Regions from separate parts of the Homo sapiens genome. Here region 2 is linked to region 1. Evidence: fine-mapped expression QTL. A gene starts in region 1. The other region holds a variant in brackets. All regions are shown on one strand. Distances are between the middles of the regions.

Region 1 (2,915 bases):
TTTCACATATTGTTCTTAATTTTTCTGAACAGTCTAATGTATTTTTGCATGAATCTAACCAGTGTGTTTAATCTCTATTGGATTCTTTTCCCATAAATTATTATATTAAAATATATGTCAGTTATATTTATACATTGCATGCTTGTGTATATTTAAATATATATTAAAATACCTCTGTGATTTGTATGGTCCATTTACATAGGCTGTCATTTATGAAATTGATCTAATTATCTTCTGTTGCATTGCTATAATGATTGTCCATTTACCTATTGGGCAACTGGGTAATTTTCTTTCTTTTTTTGGTGGTGGGGACACAGTCTTGCTATGTTGCCCAGGCTGGAGTGCAATGGTGCAATCTCAGCTCACTGCAACCTCCACCTCCTGGGTTCAAGTAATTGTCCTGCCTCAGCCTCCTGAGTAGCTGGGATTACAGGTGTGCACTGCCACACCTGGCTAATTTTTGTATTTTTAGTAGAGACAGGGTTTCACCATCTTGGCCAGGCTGGTCTTGAACTCCTGACCTCGTGATCCACCCACCTCAGCCTCCCAAAGTGCTGGGTTTACAGGCATGAGCCCCCGCGCCTGACCAAGCATCTGGGTAGTTTTCCATTGTTCTCTGTTATAAGTATTATTGCTATGAATGCCTTTTTAGAGTGGAGTTAATTTTTTTCTCTTTCTATCTTTCTCTCCTTTCCTCCTTTCCTATTCTACTGTTTCTTTTAGGATTACAGAAAGTGAGGTTGAGAAATCTTCCTTCCTCAGTTGGTCCAGGAAGGGAGTTTGTGTCCATATCTTTTCCACTATATAAGCCCTACCTAAAAACATCTACATTTTCTGTGACAAATTGAAGTTGGTTACCACGGCTGGACCCAAAGTAGTTAATCCATGAATGTGTAGAGAAAGAACAAAGGATGTCAATGGGGAAGCTTGAAAGTGTTAAGCAAACACCTTCTTTCATAAAGGCTTTTGCAGGAGAAAAGAAAATCCCCCTTCATTTTGAAGTCTAAGGAAGAGGATGTAGTAGCAAAATAGAAAACACATGCATGAATATGGATATAGTGTTCCACACAGCCCCAGTGACTCAAAGACAACAATGAAAAGATGATTATGGCTCCTATTACAAAGGTGATGAGCTGGATGTAATTAGGGATTAAATCTGAAATTCCCAGTACATACCCAGCGACTCAGGAACTTGACAAGCTGCCATCTCTCTGAGATCCCTGGAGGAGCAGTGTGGCCAGCTTACTGGGGGAGAGGCGTCTGGGGGACCTGCCCATAGCAAGCCACTCATCGGAGTGCTAATGCGCAGAGGGTCCTCTATGAGTGGACTGGAGTGGTGGTGTCTGCTCACTTTCCCTTTATTGTGTGTGCATCAGCTGGCATCCTGGCAGGGTGGTGACTTGTCAGGAAGAAGACAAGTTGCTAGGTAACAAGGGAGGATGAGGGAAGCCCCCTCCGTCTTCCTCAGAGAGAGAATACGAAGGGGCTCCAAGAAGGATTTGGATGTTAAAAAACAAAAACAAGTGCTACCCTAAGGAATAAAAGGGGACCTTTTTTTTTTTTTTTTTTTTTTTTGGAACAGGCTGGTTGGTAGAGGGAAGAGAATTGCTGTGAGTTAGAGGTGGAAGGGGAGGAAAGCAAAAGAAGGCATATGGCCAGAAAGCAAAAGAGGGAAAAGTATGAAAAAGAGAGGAGGAAGACTGTGGGAAAGAAAATTTCTTCACCAGCTATGGAAATGGCCCCACTGCAGGATGGTGTACTAGAGTCTCCATTAACTAAAGGGAATTCAGGGAGTTAAGATTGTCTGTGCAAAAAACATGCTAACGTCATTCTAAAGGTGTGGTTTCTAGACCAGCCCCAATTCATCTGGAAACTTGTTGAAAGTGTCATTCTGAAGCCCCATCCCAGGCCTCCTGCTTCAGAAACGTGTTTGTTTGTTTGTTTTTTGAGACAGAGTCTTGCTCTGTGGCCCAGGCTGGTAACCACATTGCAGTGGTGCGATCTTGGCTCACTGCAACCTCTGCCTCCTGGATTCAAGTGATTCTTCTGCCTTAGCCTCCAGAGTAGCTGGGATTACAGGTGCGTGCCACCATGCCGGCTAATTTTCATATTTTTAATTGAGATGGGGTCGTACCATGTTGGCCAGACTGGTTTCAAACTCCTGACCTCAAGTGATCCGCCTGCCTCGGCCTCCCAAAGTGCTGGGATTACAGGTGTGAGCCACCACGTCCATCCTCAGAAATGTGTTTTAACTAGCCCTCCAGGTTATGTAAAAACATGCTTTTTGAAATTTGAGGACCAATGCTACAAAGAAATGAGACAGATTTTGGAGGTGTAAGGAGGGGGACATCAAAGCAAAATTTTCTAATTAGTATTAGAAAAAAAATTACTTGCCTGGAAAAGTTAAACACGCAAGGAAGTTTATCCGAAGTTATTGCAACAGGAGAGAGGGACTAGAACTCAGTGTGAACTCAATGCTGCTGATGCAGAGGGTGCAAAGTTTTTAAAGGCTTTTAAAGGCTAGTGAAACATGCCAGAGGATGTTGTGAAGAGGTCGTAGGCCATTTGTGTTTGCTAATAAACTTCTATCTTTTGACAAGGGATGGTTTTATGACTTGGAGGAAGGTGTCCTGCTGAAGTTAGACTCCCACAAAAACTCTCCACAAAGACTGGGAGACAGGGGTGCCATCTCCTTTGATGATTACATTTCAAAGGGAGGGCTCCCAGGTCCTTGAGAAAGACATTCCTGGATTGTAAAACTGGCAGGAGGCTTTTGAAGAGATTTACATACATCTCAAAGGGGCAGAGAAAAAATGTACAATGACAAGAAATGCTCTAAAAAAAAAAGGGAGGTTAGGAAGAATCCTGCCTAAAGTTCAGTCAAGCTGAGGGAGCATGAAGGCCCTCTTGGTCGG
Region 2 (2,915 bases), 33 kb after region 1:
CAGGTTGAGAACAGCCGGTATGAAGTAAGCATACTTAACATGACCCTATGTGGGCCAACCCTGGCACAGCAGACACTACTCTCTTCCAGGTCTCTAAGCAACAGCCACACCGGACTTCATTCAGGATTCTTTGACCATGCCATAGCCTTTCCCTCTACAAGCCTTTTCCTGTTCTTTCTCAGCCTGGAATATTCCCCTTTCTCCTTCCAGTCCACCCTCTGACACACACACACCTGTGCACCATTCATCTAGCTAACACTTTAGGATCAGTCCTCAGCCAAAATGTCACTTTTGCGAAGGCTCTTCTTGCCTCCCAGACTAGGTTAGGCCCCCTGACATACATTCGTATGGCAGTTGGGACCTCTCACAGCACTCCCCACATTGATCATGAATTAATTCGCTTTGGTTATGGCTTGTTAATGTACATCCTCCTCACTCTGCTGTAAATACTGTAAGAGCAGGGCTGTTGTCTGTCTTGCTTATTCCTGGGTCTCAGCACTTAGTATGGAGCTTGGCATGTGGTAGGTACTCAATGCATTTGATGAATGAATGAATAAATGAACTTATGCACATTCTTTTTTTTTTTCTTTTTTTTTTGAGAAGGATTCTTGCACCGTCTCCCAGGCTGGAGTGCAGTGGGGCGATCTCGGCTTACTGCAACCTCTGCCTCCCAGATTCAAGTGATTCTCCTGCCTCAGCCTCCCGAGTAGCTGGGACTACAGGAGCATGCCATCACACCTGGCTATTTTTTTGTATTTTTAGTGGAAATGGGGTTTCACCATGTTGGCCAGGCTGGTCTTGAACTCCTGACCTCAAGTGATCCGCCCGCCTCGCCCTCCCAAAATCCTGAGATTACAGGCATAAGCCACCACGCCCGGCCTTATGTGCATTGCTATTTTCTGGTTTGTTCCTTTCTTTCTTTCTTTTTTCTTTTCTTTTTTTTTTGAGATGGCAGCTCAGGCTGGAGTGCAGTGGTGCAGTCATAGCTCACTGCAGCCTAGAACTCCTGGACTCAAGCGATCCTCCTGCCTCAGCTTCCTGAGTTGCTGGGATTACAGGCGTGAGCCACTGCACCTGGCCCCCTTTCCTTGCTTTAGATTTTTCTCTTTCATTGCAAAGCAGTACCCTCATTCCAGTATGAATAAAAACCCAGTTCTCGGATGTTTTACCAACCAAACTGTCTGCCTGATCTTGAGAAACTCTTCAGACACTGCCCAGCTCTCTGACCCACTCCTTTCCAAATAATTTTTGCAAAGTTTTTGTTTTTTTTTTTAACCAAGCCACTTTAAAAGCTAGGGGTACATCAAGGGATCAAATCAAAGTCCAAGGTGTGGTATCCAATTCCTCGGAATATTGATCAAAAAACGGGCATCCCCTTGGCTAGGGATTTCCCCACCACCAGGTGGAA[A/C]CCTTGTGTCTTTTCTCACCCCTCCTCTATCCCCTCGCAGTTTGCCACAGGGATGCCAAACGTAAAGTGTCCTTTTCTGACCCTTCTCCATGGAATGTACGTCTCTGGGGCAGCGTCTGTGTTTGGCTTCCGTCTAGCTCTGAGTGGATCAGGACTAACGGTTAAATCCTGGTATTTTTACATTTGAGCACCTGTGGGTTTTGAGCAATTGACTGTTACAGGTCGCTTGCTGGAAATGGTCAATGTGTTCATACCTGAAAAACTGAATTTTTATAGGACATTATTTAGAGATGATTTTGACAGTTTGTGTTAACTGACTTGTTCCATTTTCACTGATGTGCATCTGTAGGGACTTCTGGAAACCTGGAGGAGTAAGCTATCACAGGGACCTCAGAGGGTGGCTTGCCTGGAAGCTGAGCTGCCTCTGGTGGTGTTATCCCGGCAGGTCTGGCAGCCCTGGATTGACTCCCCCTAGCGGTTTCACAAAATATGTTATTTTGATAGAGCACCTTAAACTGCAGCTCCTAGCTCTAAATGTGTGGCTGTTAGAATCCTTCTACTACAAATTAGGGATGAAATTAGATGACCAGCCAGTGGGACCTCTGAGAAGAGAATGAAAAATAGGCTCATGCAGGAGAGGGCGTGGAAGGGCGGATAAGCTGTTTTGTCTGGAATTCCTGTCCCAGACAGGTTTGTCTGGGAATGGCCAGAAACTGAAATTCTGAGGATATCATCCTGCCCAAGTCCCAGAAGCAAAGGTGAGAACCAGGCACACCCTAAGGGCAAGCAGGAGGGAAGAAGAAAAGAAAGAAGAACGAGGGAAGAACAAGAAGAAAGAAAGAAGAAGGAGGAAGAGGAGGAGGAGAAGGGAGGGGGAGGAAGGGGAGGAGAAGGAGGGGAGGGAGAGGCGGAGAAAGGAAAGGAAGAAGTGGAAGAGGAAGAAGAAAGAAAGAAAGAAAGAAAGAAAGAAAGAAAGAAAGAAAGAAAGAAAGAAAGAAAGAAAGAAAAGAGAAGCAGGCAAGCAGTTTTCAAAGTTCTTTATCATCTTGCTAAGGTAGCTGAAGGATGCAGTCACAGGCCCGCATGCACAGGAGGGCTTTCCTGTTTGGGGCCAGTAGGTTTCTTGTTTTGCTGTGTTTCCTTTCTTTTTGTGCAGGACGTGACTTGGCCTCCGATCTAGACACATCGGTGTTTTTGTGAGTCATGTTCTAACAGGATTGTGCTGTGTTGAAATGACTGTTGTTTGGTGTGTCAGCCCAGATGCAGGTTTAGCACCACATTTCAAAGTGAATAAGAGCTGCTTTTAACTGTTTGTTCTTAATCCACCAACCTTTTGTGTTTTCTCATCAAAAGAGGGGTAGCTTGCCCTTTTTCTTTTGCCTTAAGCCCCAGAGAGACACCAAGTGAAGCCACGGTACCCCTTTTTTTCTTTAAGTAGCCCAATCACATAATATGCTGTAGGTTTCAAGAGAGTAAACTCTCCTCTGGTGCATAGAAATCTCAGTAA

Which allele goes with the higher level. Positions count from the first base shown, and alleles are read on the strand shown. Sizes are in standard deviations (SD) of each study's normalised expression.
For the expression in esophagus mucosa of the gene that starts at base 1,330 in region 1, C is the high allele of the variant in region 2 and A is the other (small effect, 0.17 SD a copy in GTEx).

What was found. PIP is the estimated chance that this variant, and not a neighbour inherited with it, causes the effect.
Region 2: its variant is fine-mapped to the expression of QKILA in esophagus mucosa (GTEx, PIP 0.99).

The regions. Positions count from the first base shown.
Region 1 is chr4:139,621,925-139,624,839 of GRCh38, forward strand. QKILA (QKI interacting lncRNA) reads right to left here and starts at 1,330. Exons shown (of 2, transcript NR_187398.1): 1 at 1,177-1,330.
Region 2 is chr4:139,655,321-139,658,235 of GRCh38, forward strand. No RefSeq gene overlaps it. Among named protein-coding and RNA genes, the nearest start is that of MGST2, 9.0 kb to the right of the region's middle. The variant A/C (reference allele first, on the strand shown) is at 1,409.